Homo sapiens: one gene and its partners. The protein of the gene in region 1 interacts with the protein of each later gene in a pairwise test. Each region holds a gene or a part of one and is shown on either strand. Other genes may lie near its edges.

The links.
Region 2: the proteins of GLIS3 (region 1) and NEK6 interact in binary tests that used the Homo sapiens proteins (3 or more experiments, as listed by UniProt).
Region 3: the proteins of GLIS3 (region 1) and SUFU interact in binary tests that used the Homo sapiens proteins (3 or more experiments, as listed by UniProt).
Region 4: the proteins of GLIS3 (region 1) and TRIB3 interact in binary tests that used the Homo sapiens proteins (3 or more experiments, as listed by UniProt).
Region 5: the proteins of GLIS3 (region 1) and ENO1 interact in a two-hybrid assay, tested with the Homo sapiens proteins (one large-scale study listed by BioGRID and IntAct).
Region 6: the proteins of GLIS3 (region 1) and KRTAP6-1 interact in binary tests that used the Homo sapiens proteins (3 or more experiments, as listed by UniProt).

What each region holds. Positions count from the first base shown.
Region 1 is NC_000009.12:3,823,607-3,825,931, forward strand, and holds the end of GLIS3 (zinc finger protein GLIS3), read right to left. Parts: 3' UTR 521-2,325; downstream 1-520. UniProt on the Homo sapiens protein: Acts both as a repressor and an activator of transcription. Binds to the consensus sequence 5'-GACCACCCAC-3'.
Region 2 is NC_000009.12:124,260,949-124,264,552, reverse strand, and holds part of NEK6 (serine/threonine-protein kinase Nek6), read right to left. Parts: intron 3,460-3,604; exon of another isoform or gene 3,385-3,459; intron 3,086-3,384; exon of another isoform or gene 2,970-3,085; intron 1,638-2,969; exon of another isoform or gene 1,608-1,637; coding exon of another isoform or gene 1,535-1,607; intron 1,529-1,534; exon of another isoform or gene 1,053-1,528; intron 1-1,052. UniProt on the Homo sapiens protein: Protein kinase which plays an important role in mitotic cell cycle progression. Required for chromosome segregation at metaphase-anaphase transition, robust mitotic spindle formation and cytokinesis.
Region 3 is NC_000010.11:102,590,889-102,594,492, reverse strand, and holds part of SUFU (suppressor of fused homolog), read right to left. Parts: intron 1,912-3,604; coding exon 1,769-1,911; intron 858-1,768; coding exon 772-857; intron 501-771; coding exon 428-500; intron 1-427. UniProt on the Homo sapiens protein: Negative regulator in the hedgehog/smoothened signaling pathway. Down-regulates GLI1-mediated transactivation of target genes. Down-regulates GLI2-mediated transactivation of target genes. Part of a corepressor complex that acts on DNA-bound GLI1.
Region 4 is NC_000020.11:383,674-387,277, forward strand, and holds part of TRIB3 (tribbles homolog 3), read left to right. Parts: intron 1-3,604. UniProt on the Homo sapiens protein: Inactive protein kinase which acts as a regulator of the integrated stress response (ISR), a process for adaptation to various stress. Inhibits the transcriptional activity of DDIT3/CHOP and is involved in DDIT3/CHOP-dependent cell death during ER stress.
Region 5 is NC_000001.11:8,868,675-8,872,278, reverse strand, and holds part of ENO1 (alpha-enolase), read left to right. Parts: intron 1-292; coding exon 293-388; exon of another isoform or gene 389-1,395; coding exon of another isoform or gene 1,396-1,454; exon of another isoform or gene 1,455-1,768; coding exon 1,769-1,827; intron 1,828-3,604. UniProt on the Homo sapiens protein: Glycolytic enzyme the catalyzes the conversion of 2-phosphoglycerate to phosphoenolpyruvate. In addition to glycolysis, involved in various processes such as growth control, hypoxia tolerance and allergic responses.
Region 6 is NC_000021.9:30,612,931-30,615,216, reverse strand, and holds KRTAP6-1 (keratin-associated protein 6-1), read left to right. Parts: upstream 1-1,286; 5' UTR 1,287-1,312; coding exon 1,313-1,528; 3' UTR 1,529-1,786; downstream 1,787-2,286. UniProt on the Homo sapiens protein: In the hair cortex, hair keratin intermediate filaments are embedded in an interfilamentous matrix, consisting of hair keratin-associated proteins (KRTAP), which are essential for the formation of a rigid and resistant hair shaft through their extensive disulfide bond cross-linking with abundant cysteine residues of hair keratins.

The DNA of each region.
Region 1 (2,325 bases):
TCTTAAAAAAAAAAAAAAAAAAAAAAAAAAGCAGCAAGAAAACAGTCAACTTTCTAAGATTGGTCCTTGAGATGTGATCTCTTTTGGATTCACATGCTTGGCTAGCAGGTAAACCAGATGTGAGAATATTTTGACACATCCCCCCATAGATGGGAGCTGAGGAAGAAAGCTCATCACAGCCAATGGGACAGGTGGTATTCTAAAGCGTGCACAGTGGACAGGATGAGGAAACCAGGGAAATGGTACCTGCCCCTTTCTCCAGGGAATCAGATTATATGATCAGGGCATCAGATCATGGGAAGCTGATGCTTGTGTCTTTCTCTGAAGGGTTTGGGAAAACAGGGCTGAAAAGACCCCCTCCTCCAACTGTCAGCTTGCTGAAACCCCAGCACTGGGAGTACCAAGCACTAGAGGCATTTCTGAAGCATGATGTAGCGCTACTTTGAAAAGGCACAAATAAACCCCAAATCCTAGCACACATTTATCCGGTTTGTGAAGCAGATTAATAGAATAACCAATAAAACATGTATAAAAGCTTTAATTAAATCTGATGAAATAAAACTTCATGTTTTATTTATGGACACTCCCAACATGTAAAGGACTCAGGGAGACATTCATTTTTACTGCCATTTCCTCCTCATATCTATAATTAAATCCAGGCTACAGCTCTGGCCCAAAGCAATGCAGCATTTTAAAGCTGGACTTGAACATTCCCTCCCGCATCATCTGCCTTTAATTATAATTACCATTCCCAGTATGTAAGAGGCTGATGGTAAAACAAAACAAAAAAACAAACAAACAAACAATGATGGTTGCCATTGTGTTTTAAACCGACAGGCTGAAGGAGGATTTTAGGCAGGAGGGCGTCTTCTCTATTTCCAGTTTTATTCTGTACCAAGTGCACAATCCCTTCATTTTACTTTTGACATAAAAAAAGGACTTCATGAACAAGACAAAATAACTTATGATTATATGAAACATAACTGTGACAAATCACAAAACTATACATATTAATAGAAAAAAGTGTACCTAATTCTTTAAAAGATTTATGACAATAAGCACCAGATGTGCCTCTAGAGTAAAATCGGCCCCATATCCAGTATGATATATGCAGTTCATTTCTCTACGTGAGTGTATATAACTATGTACAAGAGTCTGTGTGATTTATGGAAAACAGATTTCCACTTTTTTCCCCCAAAGTGCTTTATGTCAGCAACATTACACAGGATACTTTGCTGTCTGTACAAAATAAATCTCTTTTTACACTCACTATTTCTCCAATGAGTGCTTTTTTTTTTTTGCTTCATCTGTTGCAAAAAAAAAAAAAAATAATAACCGCAGAAATTCCACACCACTAACAAAAAGTGCTATTTAAAAATGCTTCCATAAAATGACATGGCCAAGACAGTCAAATAAAATACCAAATAATTAAATTGAAAATGTACAGTTACTATTCCCAATACTTCAAGGCAACTGGAAAGTCAAGGTTCTCAGATGAGGGAGTTGAATTTATCCTTGCTCAAAATTGGTTTTAGGGGCTACTGTGCTTGACGGCTGGTAATTTAGAAACAACTGAACAAAGCCAACACTCTTATCAGTGGTAACTCTGCTGTGATCTACTAAAGACCTTTTTTTTTCTTCTTATTTTATGATCGCTTATGTAATTTGAGGGCGACATGGGTAATGGGAGATACCCCACAGGACCTGTAAATATTTAAATAATATTTAACAGCTGATCAGAGGCTAAATTACAACTGACATTTTGATGCAGTTTCGTTAGGGAATTAAGACAATGCAGCCAATGAAATGTCTCTAGGCAGACTGATTTTTTTTTTAATGCAATAGGATAATTGTCTTTGCGCTGTGTGTTTTCACAAGCACTAGTTTTGTGTTTTGTTTCTGTTTTTAAGGGGAATGACAATCTCTGTTTGGACATTTATGAAAATGGTTACATATCAAGACTTAAAAAGACCAGGACATGAAAGGGAATGATTTTTTTGAAGTTTCCACTTGTACTGCTGCAAAAATAATGATGAATATATATATAAATCTTCTGCAGTGTGAAAGTAAGCAAGGGACAAATTTTAAGGTCAGGAAAGACTCTCGAATCTAAGCATAGTGTGTGTAGTCTGGAAGGCATCTGAACGTGTCCTATCCTGAGGCTGCAATCTCAAGCCTGCAGCTATCAGGAAAGACCCACGGTGCGGGAAGCAGGGCTGCACTGGGTCCTGTGGCCAGCATGCTCTCTCTGAGATAAAATGTCCCTCTGGGGCTCCACATTGATTTCCTGCTGAGGAAGGAGGGCTGCAGGTGCCTCTATTGCTT
Region 2 (3,604 bases), about 120 Mb from region 1:
GATTATAGGCATGAGCCTGTCCTGGTCTTTGTGATTTTTACACTACCTTTTTTGTCACATGGTACCTCTTAGCAGAATTCTAATCCTAAAGTTGAATTTCTAAGGCAGATCACCCCCAAGGGTGCCTGAGGATCACGGGGCTGGTGCCTGGTGTTACTGGCCCGTTTTCCGGATGAGGGAGTAGAGGCTGGGCCCCTGTGAAGCCCTCCTTGCATGAGGTGACTACAGAGGAGTGGACCTCCAGAGCCTGGTGACACCCTCTCCCACCACACAGACTACAGCTGGGTCTAGGGTGTGACGAGCTGGCAGAGAAGCCGCCCCAGAGCGATAGCCACTTCCGGAGGACAAGGATCTCTCCACCGGCTCAGGAAAACAAGCCAGTTTAAGGGAAACCCAAATGGCTTTGGGGGGCGGGGGCATAAAATGTGCAGGACTCCCTCAGGCCTTGCCATGCAGACCTTTTCAGGAGGACTGCCAGGGGAAGACGGCTGCTCACTTCTGCCCCACGGCCAGGCCTGTGACAGCCGCTCCTGTCAGCGCAGTCCTCTGCGGGGCCGACGCTGTGTAAATAATTAACAAAACATCTGCCTTGCTTCATAACACACCGTGGCTGACACAGCTCTCAGGGCCTTCAGAGACCCTCCAATGCCACGCCGAGGACTTATGGCCTCGCTTTGTGGGGACAGGTGGGAACGAGAGCAGATACTGACAGGCAAACATTTTCCTGAGGCGCCACAGGGCCACCCTGGTGCTTAAATCCTGCCTCTTTGCAAACTGCGCTGTCTCCTTCCCTTCCGTTTTGGGAGCCATGATCCTAGGAAGGTGCTCTGGTGGAATCCAGAGGGGTCCCCGGCACCTGCTTCTGGCCTTGTTTAGGGCCTCAATGCAGGGGCACTGGAGACACTCTGGGCCACGGACCAAGGGTCCCGGCTGAGTGACCCTGGGTGGGTCCTTGGTCATTAAAGATTTTCCATGTCTCTCATGTAATCTTGGGGAATGAGCATCAAGCACTTAAAAGGCGCTGAGCATCTGAAATGCATTATTTCACTTACTTCCTCCCCCGAAGCTTCTGAGGTCATAATATTATCCCTGTTTTCCAGATGATGACGCTGAGGCTCAGTGGGCGACGTGCTCATGAGAGGCAGGTCTGGGACTCCAGCCTCATTCACTCCATCGGGTGCCCAGGCTCAGGCTCTCAATGCGGCTGTGGGGGAGCGCCTTGCTCCCTCTGAGCCTCAGGTTCTGTTCCGTGAAACAGATGGGTGGCAAGAGTCCTTCAGACTCCAAAAGTCCACAATAAATAAACCCAGTGCTCGTCTCAACCCCAGTGGGTGTGTGCGAAGCTCTCTGGATTGGGAGCCCAGTGAATTCCTCATCAGCAGCTTGATTCATTAGAGCTGAAGGTCATGTGCATCCATCCTTTTGCAGGTGTCTTCCCAACAAGCCCAAGTTTCAAAGACGTTGAGGACAAGGAACAAGAGAGGGCAGGCATTCGAGAAGGGGCCTGTGGACTAATTCCCATACTGCCACTCACCTGCAGTAAGAACGCGCCTCTGGAACATGGAGAAGTTCTTCTTAAAGGGATCTCTGTTCACCCAGGTCAACATGACCCACCCCGCAAGCCTCAGCCTAATTCTGAAGCATGAGGGTTAAACAATTCGGGGAAAATGCAGGCACTGCAGGCTCTGAATGGCAACTTCCCTCCCCCTTCCCCTGTCCAAATTCCTTCACACTCTATGGAATTCCTACATAAAGCCCCTTTTTTCTTAGAATTCTATGAGGTCACCACCATGCAGATGTCTAAGAGAAAGAAAGAACGGCTCCGTGCAGATCCAGGCCACTGCAACTGAATGCATTTCAGATCTCGGCCACCCCATCTTTCAATTCCCATGGCCCCCCCACTCGCCCAGCCACAGCTACAGCGGTGGTGGCCAGTCAGGTCTGGTGGGGTGCTGTGATCCTGCCCTTGCTGGAGGCCAAGAAGGCCTGGCTAGAAGACCTGTGCCTTTACCACCAGATCACCCGAGAAGTCATCTGTGGAAAAATCCAGAATTGGAGACAATGGCGCAGCCATGTATGTGGGGGTCTGTTTCCACACAAGCAAGTCCTGTTAGAGGGACACATGTCAAAATGCTAGCTCCCACTCCAAGTTCAAGTTCCCAAAGTTAACATCACAGGAAATTACACCACCAACTGATTTGCCCCAATGTCGGCTCCTCTGTCTGGAAGTCGAGTCTGAGAAGGCCATTGGTTTAGTTCAGCTTTGGCCAAAGGAAGGGACCAGCTCAGACAGGAATGAGTGAAAGTGCTGGCCTGATTTTTTTTCTTTTTAAACTAACATTTTCCCCAAAAGTTATCTTGCCATTACCCAAGAGTCATAAGTGAAAAGACAGCCAAATACCAAAAAGCCACTGAGGCCCTCAACAGTGCCTGCTCATTTCAAAGCCATTTCACGGACAGCCAGGGGGTGCCTGGGCCACCGCAGACCACCCCTCACTCCAAGAGCACTCCTGCTCCCCAGAGCTCCATGTTCCATGTAAAGTTCCACGGCATGTGCACACCACTTCCTAAGAATGATGTCAGCAAAAAAAAAAAAAGATAAAAATGTGGAAAAAAGGACTATTTTTACCTCCCCAAATCACAGGCCAGACGGGAGAAAAATCCATCAATGCCAGAAATGTGGCTGAGCCTTCGCACAAGATCTATTATTTCACACCTTAAATTAACGCATCTCAAAGCAATTTGCAAATGTTCGTCAATTTGCAGAACATACATGGAAGGGAGAGAAATACCTTTTCCTTTCAACACCGAAGGACACTGGCAGGGGGGCACAACATGGCCCAAACCACACAGGTCCTCACACACAACATTCATTTCAAGCACATGTAGTAGAAGCCGTGATCGAAATGGAAATGAGCAGGGAAAAAAGGCAGGCAGGGGACTTAAATGACAAGTGACAAGAAGCCTACCTACAAGCGATCTCGCTGTCAGATATTTAGGACTGTGAGTCAGGCCCGTGAAGGTGACATCAGGGGGCCAGAACACCGGACTCTTCCTGCGAACAGTGTCCCAGCCTCATCTCCACACAAGCCTGGCAGTGCCTGCCCGTATTTAATCTTGGATGATTCACCAGGTCCCTCCACTCTCCACCCTCCAACTCCCTTGCTTGGTCTAGCCTGAGAAGAGGAAGGAAATATTCTTCTCCTTTTGACAATTGTTTTGACACTTCCCTTATGAAAAGTATCTGGGGCACTTAAAGAAAAGAAAAAATGTGAACAGCAGCCCTTTCTCTCCAGTAGCTCTGGCCCTGGGCGAGGAAGGCCAGCAGTGCCTTCTGGAAGACCTCTCCCAGGTCTCGGGCAACCCAGCCCTGCAGGAACCTAGCCTGTCTTAACCTACTTGGCTTTGCAGCATGCAACAGGAGCAAAGCACGACAAAGGCAGCCAGATGTGGTTTAAGGTGAGGAACTCTGGAATCAGAGACATGGGTTCGAATCCCGACTCTGCCATTTGTGGGTTTATGACCCTGCCCAAGTTACTTAACCTCCCTCTCTGTAAGATCAGGAAAACGACACTGAACCTCAGCACAGGCCAGGCATCCAGCC
Region 3 (3,604 bases), on another chromosome or scaffold:
TCCTGCAGCTGAGCCATGGAGTCAGTATCACCTACACTACTGTCTGGTACAGGGCGGTGGTGGCCGTGGTGGCTCCCTAAAAGAAAGTCTGGGAGGCAGGAGAATGAATACTGGGCAAGCAAGCAATATCCACTACACTTATCTTTTATTGCTGGCAATCTAATTTTTTAAGCCAATATATAATTTACATACAATAAAAATATCCTTTTAAAATGCCAAAATACATATGTCTGAGGACTAGCTTTCCTGGGCTGAAACCTCTGCTCCCTACGTGCTCTGCAGAATTCAGGGGACAAGTTCCAAGTGATGCCATATTTCTACTCACTCACACATAAAGGTCCTCTGTTTTCCCAGGATGAAAGCCAGTGTTATTTGGAAGAGGCCTAGGCACAGGGTGCTAGAAAGGTTTTCCTCACTCAAGACATACTTGCAGGTGTGGATCGATCTCAAATATGGTCTCTCCCCTCCGCATGTCAGTTATCAGCCAGGGGCCGCCAGCACTGTGGACAAGGAAAGGGGATACAATGGTAACTGAGGGTCTGGGGCTGATGGGCTGGGCCTACAGCCTGCCCTGTTTGCTGCCCCAGGCCTAGGACACAGGGGAATAGTTCGTGGTCAGGGACTGTCAGGGAGTGAGTCGTCAGGAAGCCCTGATGTGAAAAACCAGGGTCTGAAATAACAACGCAAGAGGGAGCCCCACATGGAGGGTAGTGGAGGGACTCCCACCCCCAGGCCCAGGGAGCCGCGCTCCCACCTTGCATGGGTACTCACATAGGCACTGTCCGCAGCAGCTCCAGGATGCCCTGCCCGTTCCACTGCTGGGCTGAGTGTAGCTCTTCAGTGCAGACACCAACGATCTGAGGCCCAGGATAGAAAGCCCATTGTGTGTTAATGGCCACCCCCCACCCCAAGAAGGTCAGCTACCCAGGCTCTCTGAGTCACCTCCAGTTGGGAGACCACAGGCAGGATCTGTGCTCAGGAGCTGGTGCAGCCAAGATTGGATGATTCCCTTAGGAGGGAGTGGCTGCCTGGCTGGGAAATGGCTGGGTCCACATGTGGGCCCTGAGGCCTGACCCTTGCCCTTGCTGTGTCTGGATGACACCAAGTCTAGCTCTTAGCTACAAAGGAGAAAACCAAGGCCTGAGCAACTCAAGATGTGTCCTCAGGCCATGTCTCTGGAAGTAGGGGAGGTTCAGGGAGCCATTCCTACCCAGTCTGGTATCATGGGGAATGTAAACAAGAGACTTTGAGACCTATCAGGCTTGGAACCACCACCAATAGGTCATAGCAGCCTGCAGAGAAACTCCTCCCTTCCTTATTAGGGGATAGGCCTTTGTGTAAATATCAAGGGAATCAGTGGAACCTTCACATAGACTTCGTGACCAAAAACAAGCACTGGTCAAAGCTGGGCAGGTTCCCACAGCTTCTGGCAAAGAGCAAGGACGACCCAGAGCTGGCTTCCCGCTGGAAAGTCCTGTTCCTGAGACTGGGTCTTCACTGTTCAAAGAATACCCGCCACCCCATTACTCCCTCTCAGCTACAGCCATTCTCTCCCAACCAAATGCCCCCTTCCCTTTCTCCCCTCTCCCATCTCAGCAGGTTAAATCAGACCATCTGAATCTACCTGACAAACCATCAGAGGAAACAGAAATCAGGACGAGGCCAAAGGAAACCTCCCACTCCCTTCACTCCCCCTCCTCAAGCCTCCTTGTCCTCCCAGGACCCTTCCCACAGGAAGGCTTGAGCCAGCGTCCAACCTGTGCCTCACCTGGAGGAAGGTAACTACCCCAAAGGGTGTCTGCACGGGCTGCATCTGTGGGTCCTCTGTCAGCAGCATGTGCTGAATTCTTGACTCACTGTTATCCAAAGGGCTGTGCCAGGACACATGGTCCCCACTGCAGAAGGTGTTCTCTGTGGGAGAGATACAAGGATCCTCATTGTTCAAGGCCCCAGATCCAGGCCTGGAATCTGGGCTGGGATCTCACTAGCCCAGGCTGGGAGGCTTCCCAGCCTCTTAGGGTAGCCCCTGTGAAGGAAGAGAAGCATTCACTCCGGATGGAAGCAAAGAGTTTGTGGATATTTCCAAAAACCTAAATTGTTCCTGCTTGCCAGTTCTGTCAGACTTGAAAAGGACAGGCTATTAGTGTGAAAGCTCCTTCGGCCTGGGAAACCAGAAAGACTTCTGGCATCTGCTTCGCTTCCCCAATATCCCGACTCATGGTGGGAGGCAGGAGCCATGACTGGATCTGCCAAGAAAGAATAAGGTGCTTTTCTGTAGGGCCACCTGGCCAGAAGTCCACAGAGAGGCAACAGGGCAATGAAAGCCCTTCACCTTGGAGAAACAGACCGAAATTCCTATGTTGCTGAAATGGCACTCAGAAGGAAACATCGAACCTTGGAGAGCCTTTGAAATCTATCACCATTTTCCCACAGGCAGATGTAGGAATTCCTGAGGAACACTAGGCTTCAAGTAAATGGAGGTCTAAATAGTGCCTCCCACACCGTGGCAGAGACAACTCATGAGGATCCTCAGGCCATGTCTCTGAGATGTTCAGATTCTGCCAAGGGTAGCTGTTGCCATGAGGGCATAGCCTCCTCACACACAGGCTCACCACTGCACTTCAAGCAGGTACGTTACTTTAGAGAGAGTTTTGTTTAAGGCCACATAACCACAAGGGAAAACAACCCCACAGGGTACTAAGTCTCTCACCAGCTCTGACTCTCATCGTGGGTGCCAAGGTGCTCTATATGTCCAGCCTATGCATCCACAGGCTCCCTTCCATGTTTTGTCCTTACACAAATGGAAGCACACTATTCTGCAGATTTCACTTAATTATATATCTTAGACAGCACCTTTTTTTTTTTAATATGGAACACTTCACGAATTTGCATGTCATCCTTGCGCAGGGGCCATACTAATCTTCTCTGTATCGTTCCAATTTTAGTATATGTGCTGCTGAAGTGAGCACGAGATCACCTTTTTTTTTTTTTTTTGAGATGGAGTCTCGCTCTGTTGCCAGGCTGCAGTGCAGTGGCGCGATCTCTGCTCACTGCAACCTCCGCCTCCTGGGTTCAAGCGATTCTCCTGCCTCAGCCTCCTGAGTAGCTGGGATTACTGGCATGTGCCACCACACCTGGCTAATTTTTTGTATTTTTAGTAGAGGTGGGATTTCACGGTGTTAGCCAGGATGGCCTCGATCTCCTGACCTCGTGATCCGCCCTCCTCGGCCTCCCAAAGTGCGGGGATTACAAGTATGAGCCACAGCACCCAGCAGAGATCACTGCTTCTCAGCATATGGAGAGCTATCTCATTCTTTAAATGGCTGTTCCAGAGTTCACTATGGTCTGTCATTCACGATCTCGGAATCTCAACAGTTGAGGTATCTTTCTTCACTTTTTATCAATATTTAAGGTAAGGCAGAACACACACATACACACACAGACACACCTTTTCCATCCAAGATACGGCTTCAGTTATTGGTCCTAACCTCAATAGTGTTCATTCAGGCAGGAGAAGGAAGACTGCTTCATCTGAGATGTGATAATACAGGGGAGAGGAGAAGGCACAGCTTCAGGTAGAGCCAACTAGAAACCCCTAAATTTC
Region 4 (3,604 bases), on another chromosome or scaffold:
AAGTGATCTTCCTGCTTCAGCCTCCCAAAGTACTGGGATTACAGGCATGAAGCACTGCACCCAGCCTGTTTTTCATTTTGATATTGTCAAAATGCACTCCTCAGAGGTGGTACCTTTTATCCTCCCACTAGCACTGTCTTCATTGTTAGTGGCTGCACTGCCACTATTCCACAGTATAAACCCACTTTTCATGACACTGCCAAGACATAAGGGTCTGAAATACTTAACAGTTTTCTTCCACAGTCCCCAAAATACAGGCTTCTCCCCCAGCTCAGGACATGAAGCCATCATCCCTCCTCATTGCAGGAGCCAAAGGCTGGACCTCACCTCGATTCCACCCTCTCCTTCACCCCTCACATCCAATCCATCCAGTCCATCCAGTCTGCCACTGAGTCCTCTTGATCTTCCTCCTATGAGCCCTTAACTTCGCGTCTCCATCTAGCACCCCCTAGTCCAGGTCACCTTCTCCTGCCTGGACTCGTGCTTGTGTGGGCCTCCTAGCTAGTCTCACTGCCCCGTCTTGTACTTTCAAATCCACCCTAAAAGCATGATGTTCCCCTGCTGAAATCCTTCAGTGGCTCCCCACTGCCTTTGGATAATTCCAAATCCTATTGTGTGTTAATTAGGATTAGGCTCAGCTGTAATATAGAAACAGCCACTTAATAGCTAAAATGAAATAGACGTTTTTTTCTTCTTTTTCTCTTTTTTTGAGACAGAGTCTTGCTCTGTCCCCAGGCTGGAGTGCAGTGGCGAGATCTCAGCTCACTACAACCTCTGCCTCCCAGGCTCAAGTGATTCTCCTGCCTCAGCCTCCCGAGTAGCTGGGACTACAGGCATGCACCACCATGCCCACCTAATTTTTGTATGTTTAGTAGAGATGGGGTTTCACCATGTTGGCCAAGATGGTCTCGATCTCCTGACCTTGTGATCTGCCTGCCTCGGCCTCCCAAAGTGCTGGGATTACAGGCATGAGCCACTGCGCCCAGCCTTCAATAGATGTTTATTTCTCTCCTGTGTAAAAAACCTGGAGGTCTGGCCTGACAACTCCATGTGTCAGGGACCTAGGCTCCTCTCTTGCTCTACTGTATGTGGTACTTCTGAAGCCAAGGTAGATGCTGGAGCTCCAGCAGTTAGGTCCACATTCCAGCATACAGGAAAGGAGGAAATGAGGAAGTTGGGCCCTCCCTTTAAGAACACTGTCCTGGGCATTGTACACAACACTTCCACTTGTGTCCTACTAGCCATATGCTGATACAAGGATACAAGGGAGACAGGAAATGCAGTTTATTCTAGGTGTCCTTGTGCTCAGCTGAAAATCTCAGGTTCTAATCCTATGTAAGGAGGGGAGACCTGAAACTGGGGACCACTAACCACCTCTGCCATATGATGCTCGTAGAGCCCTTCACAATAGGGCCTCTACTAACCTCACCTTATTTTTATTTATTTATTTATTTTTGAGACGGAGTTTCACTCTTGTCGCCCAGGCCGGAGTGCAATGACACTATCTCAGCTCACCGCAACCTTTGCCTCCTGGGTTCAAGCAACTCTCCTGCCTCAGACTCCTGAGTAGCTGGGATTACAGGCGTGTGCCACCACGCCCGGCTAATTTTTGTAGTTTTAGTAGAGACGGGGTTTCACCATGTTGGTCAGGCTGGTCTCAAACTCCTGACCTCAGGTGACCTGCCTGCCTCGGCCTCCCAAAGTGCTGGGATTACAGGTGTGAGCCACCACGCCCGGCCTATTTTTTTTTTTTTTTTAACTTTTCACTTTTTTTTGCAGTCACGCTCATTCTCCACCGTGTTCTTGGGGAACATGCAGCATGTTCTTTTGCCTCTTCCCTCACCCCAGAACAGGGGTTACTGGACAGCGGCATCAACTTCACCTGGGAACTGGATAGAAATGCAGATTCAGACCTTCTGAATGAGCTACTTTGGGAGTAGGGCCCAGCAATGTATGTTGAAACAGGCCTCCAGATGATCTCAATGCTTGCTCAAGTTTGAGAACCACTGAACCGCAGTATGACTCTCCGTGTCACCTGGCTAACTCTGCCTCACTTTCAGGTCTCAGTGTAGACACCACCTCTTCTAGGAAGACCTCTCTTGACCCACCAGCCCAGGAGAGAGGCCTCTCTGGGTTCCTAGAGGCCCATGCTTCTCTGTATAGTAGGGCTGATCACACTGTATGTGATTTTTTTTTTTTTTTTTGAGAGAGTCTTTACTCTGTCACCAGGCTGGAGTGCAGTGGCACAAACATGGCTCACTGAAGCCTCAACCTCCCAGGCTCAAGCAATCTTCCCACCTCAGCCTCCCAAGTAGCTGGGACTACAGGCATCCACCACCACACCCAGCTAATTAAAAAAAAATTTTTTTTTGTAGAGACAGGGTCTCACTATGTTGCCCAAGCTGGTCTTGAACTTTTGGGTTCAAGCAGTCTTCCCACCATGGCCTTCCAAAGTGCTAGGATTACAGGTGTGGGCCACTGCACCTAGCCTTGGACGTGATTTTATTACTCATCTGCCCTCCAAATTGACTGGAAGATCCTGACGGCAAGACTGCTGTCTAACCTACTTCTCTTCCTAGCACCCAGTGTTAAGTGAATGAACAAGATCATATCTCTCATCTGTGAATGTACGAGAGCCATGGATTATGAGATTAGTTGATTTTCTTAACTATAATTTTTAGAAACAAGCTGTGTTTTTAAGCAGGTATTTATTTCCTTAAATGTACATTTCTGATTACAAAATACTTTTTTTTGAGACAGAGTCTTGCTCTGTCACCCAGGCTGGAGTGTAGTGGCACAATCTCGGCTCATTACAACCTCTGCCTCCTGGGTTCAAGCGATTCTCCTGCCTCAGCCTTCCCAGTAGCTGGGATTACAGGTATGCACCACCACGCCCGGCTAATTTTTTTTTTCTCCCGTGACGGAGTCTTGTTCTGTTGGCCAGGCTGAAGTGCAGTGGTGTGATCTCAGCTCACTGCAACCTCCACCTCCCGGGTTCAAGTGATTCTCCTGTCTCAGCCTCCCAAGTAGCTGGGATTACAGGCCCACGCCACCACGCCTGGCTAATTTTTCTATTTTTAGTAGAGATGGGGTTTCACCATGTTGGCCAGGCTGGTCTCAAACTCCTGACCTCATGATCCACCACCTTGGCCTCCCAAAGTGCTGCCGTGGGCTGCACTTTGGCATTGCCTTGGTCACGTGCTGCTACCTGGGATTACAGGCATAAGCCACTGCGCCTGGCCTAATTTTTGTATTTTTTAGTAGAGACAGGGTTTCACCATGTTGGCCAGGCTGGTCTTGAACTCCCAGCCTCATGATTCGCCCACCTTGGCCTCCCAAAGTGCTGGGATTACAGGCGTGAGCCACCACGCCTGGCCAGGAAATACATTTACATGGCTCAAATTCAAAACTATAAAAGTCGGCCAAACATGGTGACTCACATCTGTAATCCTAACACTTTGGGAGGCTGAGGCAGGAGGATTGCTTGAGCTCAGGTGAGACCAGCCTAGGCAATGTAGGGAGACCCCCATCTCTACAAAGAATAAAAAAAAATTAGTCAGGCATCATAGTGCACACCTGTAGTCCCAGCTACTTGGGAGGCTGA
Region 5 (3,604 bases), on another chromosome or scaffold:
TGCCTGGGTCAGAATCTACATTTTAACAAGACCTCCAGGTGGCATGTAGGCTCTGCTGTAGAACACTTTCTTTCTGCTAGAGGAATTAGTCATCTTTGCAGTAAGTTCTGCAGTACAGGATCATAAACATGTGAAAGGCATGAAGAACAGCCCAGAGCGTTTAATTCACACAGCTGGTAGGAGGAAGAAACAGCTCCCTAATGACAAATGCATCTGTGGGCGGGAGGGGACTTGGGATTGTGCTGGAACTGGATTTCTGAATTGCTACTACATCTTTTTTCCTCTCATCCAGGTCTCTTCAGAGCTGCTGTGCCCAGTGGTGCTTCAACTGGTATCTATGAGGCCCTAGAGCTCCGGGACAATGATAAGACTCGCTATATGGGGAAGGGTAAGCCTTAGAACCCACAGCCCATGGCCTCCCTGCTTCCAGCCCCATTCCTGGCCTTGCCCAGTCCTGTCCTCTCTGGGTGGCACTTGCACTTGCAGGTTTATGGCAGGTAAACCTGCTGTGACCCATGATGTTGATGGAAGCAGTGCACCACCTTGTGGACAGGAAAGTTGGTGTGTGGATTCCGGGGTTCCCGAGCCTGCATGCTCTGGGTCGAGAGTTCCAATGCTTGCTTCTATTGCAGTTTGTTCCCAATCTGCGAAATACTCCTTCACGGTTAGGACAGGAACCCAAGCATGAGAACAGGGCCTGTTAACTAAAGAAAAGTTTCCCCATCTCCCAGGAGGGTTCTGTGGGCCCTCCAGAGATCATCAGCCTCTTCACGGGCTAGAAAGGATCCAGGGAAGGTCTAACCAATGACCTGCCCTGAATGGTGAGCTGCAGGTGTGTCATTTAGTGTGATTTTCCTGTTGACTGACTCATAGGAGCCCTGCTCTGTGGCAGAGCTAGCCTCTGGCTGTATTCAAATTGACTTAGTGTGTGTGCAACATTGACCTTTCTAGAGATAGAACATGTGGCCAAATTACAGAAAAGCACATAGGGCTAGATCACGCATTCTCAGTGGGGCACCCGGAAAACTCCAAAAAGGCTGCAGGGAGGGGACAATGATGAAATCAGGTTGTGAAACACTGGGCTGGTGTCGCAGTGGTGGTGCTGGGTGTTCAGTCCCGCTTTAATGCTGTAAGAAGCACTCTACACACACGAACATGTTACCATTTGACCGTTGTTTAATGGCGTACGTGGGGACTTAGCCGGAGCAGGATGATGCTGTGCCTTGATGGTAATGAGTGCTCAGTAAGTAAGCATTTGTGGAAGATTGAACGCATGGCCCCTGAAATGCTCTCCTCTGCTTTCCTGCCCCCTCACTGTCTCTCACTCGCAGTCCTTAATCACCGGTTCTCTTCTGAGTCTCTCTCATTTTTCCTTCTTCATCCTCTGCTGGGCAGGCGTCTCCAGACCCATTAAGTATATTAATGAGTTCCTGGCACCAGCCCTGTGCACTCAGGTAACTGATTGAACAGCCTTTAGTCTGCAGTTGGCGTTTCCAGTGCATGGTCTTGCAAACTAACCTCCAGTCAGATCGTTCTGAGCCAGCTGCTGTTTTGTGTGGCTCTAACCCTCTGGGGTCCTAGGTAGGAGCACTCAGACTGGGCCGGAAAGTCCTCCGATTCTGGGGGGAAAGGGGAGAGGGGGAAGAGGTCCCACAGAAGGTCCCTTGGTGGGCTTCCGCGTCGGCCTCAACAGTGGTTCTCTCTAACAATGCTGCTCAAGCCTGTTTTAAAGTTAATGTCAGTAATTTGATTTGATTGTTCCTTCCAGGTGTCTCAAAGGCTGTTGAGCACATCAATAAAACTATTGCGCCTGCCCTGGTTAGCAAGGTAGGACCTGCCTCCTGATAACTAATGTGTCTAATGCCACCAGAGCGTCTCCCAGGCCCAGGGGCTTTCCTGTTTATGGAAGAGCTTATTCTGAGAGCTGTAGAAGCCTATTGGATTCCCTGTCACGCACGAGAACAATCCATGCATGACATAATTCTAACCTGCCCGCTGCCTCACCCCACTTTTGGGAGCAGATGGAATTGCATCAGAAGAATGAGACACTTCGAGCCCTGAGGTTTCTTCCCCCCTGCAACTCTCTGGACCTTTGAAGAAATTAAGATCCAGATTTTAAGAGTGGCTCTCAGGGGTGTTTGTGGTAGTGTCCATGGTGACTAATTTCTCATGAACTTTGGAATTATTTACTATAATTCTACTGACTTTAACAGTGGAGTTCCTGTTAAGTAAAATCTGGAAATCTCAGTATGTCAAACATAAAAGAGCTGCTGGAGGTGAAGTAGGGCTGGGGACCCAGCAACCCACCCGACTCTGCAGGTTTTATCTCATTTACCCTCCCTTCGGCCCGTCCCTCCGTAATTCCTGTGGCGCTCATCAGATGGGACTGGTTTGAAAACCCCTGTCTAAAAACACTCCGGGCCAGGTGCAGTGGCTCACACCTGTAATCCCAGCACTTTGGGAAGCTGAGGTGTGTGGATCACTTGAGGTCAGGAGTTGGAGACCAGTCTAGCCAACATGGTGAAACCCTATCTCTACTAAAAGTACAAAAATTGGCCGGGCATGGTGGTGCACGCCTGTAGTCCCAGCTACTTGGGAGTCTGAGACATGAGAATCGCTTGAAGCTGGGAGGCAGAGGTTGCAGTGAGCAGAGATTGTGCCACTGCACTCCAGCCTGGGCAACAGAGTGAGACTCTGTCTCAAAAAATAAAAATAACAAAGCTCTCTAGGCCCAGTCCAAGCCCAGCCACAGCCTCCGTCTATTCTTGAATCTAGTCCCTCTCCTCCATGAATTCATTCTGTACACGAGGGAAAAGGAGGAGTTCCTTTGTTGTCTCTGTCCCTGACTCGTTGGTTTAGGCCTGGCTTTTGTGGCACTCTGTAATTACTCCCTGCCCGACCAGCCCCCAGACAAAATGTCTTGTTACCGTTCTGTCTGCACCACCCCCTGCCAGTCTCCCGGACACCTCCACACATACCTTGTTCTCTGTCCCTTCATACCCCTGCATAGTGTGACTCACACGATGAGCAGGATCCCCTGACTTTTTTTTAACCCCCTAGAGAAACATACCAAACTGTTAGTGAGAATTGACCTCTGAAGCTGTGTGCTTGGGTAACTGCCTGCCTGTTGCAGTGATGCCTTGACAAAGCTGTGAAAGACACCAAATTGCTCATACAGCATGATGGGATCAGAGTTGATTTTCTTTGCATATTTTTTTATATCAAGCACATCATAGATAAAAATAATGCCTTGTTATTAATATATTAGTTTAAAATGGAATGCTGATTTTTGGCTGGGTGCAGTGGCTAACGCCTGTAATTCCAACACTTTAGGAGGACTTTAGGAGGCTGAGGTGGGCAGATCCCTTGAGGCCAGGAGTTTGAGACCAGCCTGGGCAACATGGCAAAGCCCATCTCTATAAAAAAAAAATATAAAAATTAGCCAGGCATGATGGTGCATGCCTATAGTCCCAGCTGAGTTTGGAGGATCATTTGAGCCCACGAGGTGGAGGTTGCAGTGAGCTGAGATCGTGACACTGCATTCCTGCCTTGGCAACAGAATGAGACTCTGTCTTAAAAAATAAAAATTAAAAAATTAAAAAGT
Region 6 (2,286 bases), on another chromosome or scaffold:
GAAGCTTCTATCCAGAAAAACAGGGATGGGATGAAATAAGTAAAGACAGCAAAATTTATTCTAGTATTCTGGTTCCTACTATGAACCAAACACTATTCAAAGTGTCTGGTATGTATCAAAAGATTTGATTTTCTAAATTTCCTTGTGGGGTAGGTATCATTATTACAATCCCATTTGCAGATAGGGCAGCTGAAGCATGTAGTTAACAGTGGTCAGACAGCTATGGATAGTAGAGGTAAAATTTGAGCCTAGAAAGCACATTACAGATATTTTACTCTTATTTACTATATTCAACTCACTCTTATAAAGTCATCTTACTAAGAATATAAGTCCAGAGGGCTACTTGACTTAATCATTCAATTTAGCTCTGATCTTCACTGCTTTGAAAAAAGATTAGGCTATAGTAACATGTTCCTCATAGTCTCATATTTTGCCAAAGACTTCTTGTTTGATGGTGGAAATATAGTAGGTTGCATGAAAAGATACTTCTGCCAGTATTATTGTTTTAAATATGAAAATACCTATACTTACTTTTGAGCCAGAACACAAATATAACAAATGCCTTGAAATTTCAGGAAAATTTTTATAAAAATACAATTTTATAAATAAAATGAAACCTCATTGATTACGAATTTGAAACTATGGGAAAGAACTATTGTTTTAAAACAGTCACAAAAGGAAATATTGATGTGAGAAAGAAAAGTATAGTTTTCTCATGCCTGGTATTTTAGAATTTCAAACTATTGGCTTTGTGTCAACAGTCTCTGGAAGCTGAGTGACACTTTCTGGCTTTTAAAAGAAAACCATCTCTCATGTGAAAATGAGAAGAATTCCTAAAGGAAAACAATGGGTTTGGAGCAGCAGGAAAGAGATGGAGAAACTCAAGCTCAAGGGAGATTACCATGACCTGTTGAATGTCAGCAAAAATAAGGTAAAATTATTGGTTGTTTAGAACAGGTCAGTTTGTTTACTAAAATGCTATTTCTTGCCATAAAGGCTGGTTGGAAAATGGTAATTTGAATGTCTGGTGTGAGTAGAGTTTTAAAGATCAGACAGTTGATGCTCATTAAAGATGCACAAATGTTTCAGATGTGGCTGAACAATAGAAAATGTTCTAAATGCCACAAGGCCACGATTGAAAACCAAGAGTCAACAAATTACTCATGCTGGTCCTTCAAATTAGCCAATGGCATGACTTGTGTATGGTTCCCACCCACACTGAGGCATATAAAAGGCCCTCTGCAGGGGAAGTGTTCATACTGAAGTCACCTACACTTCCTCCTACCCAAGGACAACCTCCACAACCAACACCATGTGTGGCAGCTACTACGGAAACTACTATGGCACCCCTGGCTATGGGTTCTGTGGCTATGGAGGCCTGGGCTATGGCTATGGAGGCCTGGGCTGTGGCTATGGCTCCTGCTGTGGCTGTGGCTTCCGCAGACTGGGCTGTGGCTATGGCTATGGCTCCCGCTCCCTCTGTGGCTATGGCTATGGATGCGGCTCTGGCTCTGGCTACTATTATTGAGGATGCCATGGGAGACTCTCACCCTCTATCCTGTGATACTGAGATTCACTAATTCTGAAGCCCACATGTTCTGAGATTTTCCCTTGAGTGATGATATCCTGCAATGGAAGTCTAATATGGTCTGTTGTTGAGCTACCATCTAACCTACAAATATCTTGAATTTCCATCATGAAACGGGATAAGGTAAAATTCACCTGTCAGTTCTCCTTTCATCAGAATGATGGTGTCACATCATCTGCCTTGATGACTTTTATGATGGAGCTTTTTTCTCTGTTCACCTAATAAACACATTTAATCCAGAAGAGAAACCTGGTGTTTATGTCAATCATTTAATATTTAAAATTTCTTACCAATAGTTTTTGTTTCAGTTTGCATGAAAGCTAACAATTAAATTCTTTGGGAGATATTTTTCTTACAATTTCTAGAGAGGTTTCTTTGCCAATTCAAAGCTCAATTGTTTTAGAAAAGTAAGCTTTTTAATAAATTTCAGTTTCCTCCTTTGCTTCTAGGGGAAGAATTTATGTTGTGCTGAGTAATTCTCAATACTAAATTAAGTACCTATCATTTATATGTTGGGTTATGCATTGCCTGCTGTCTGTCACATAACAAAGAAAAAATTTAATTTTCCGAAGCCTTCTTGTGCATATCTCCTAAAATAAATGAATGCTTGTTACTATATCCTTCATTTTGAATCTTCCATTTTAAAGAAACTATTTTTTAATGAGACATAACCAAAGGAATAGTTTTATAATCTAGTA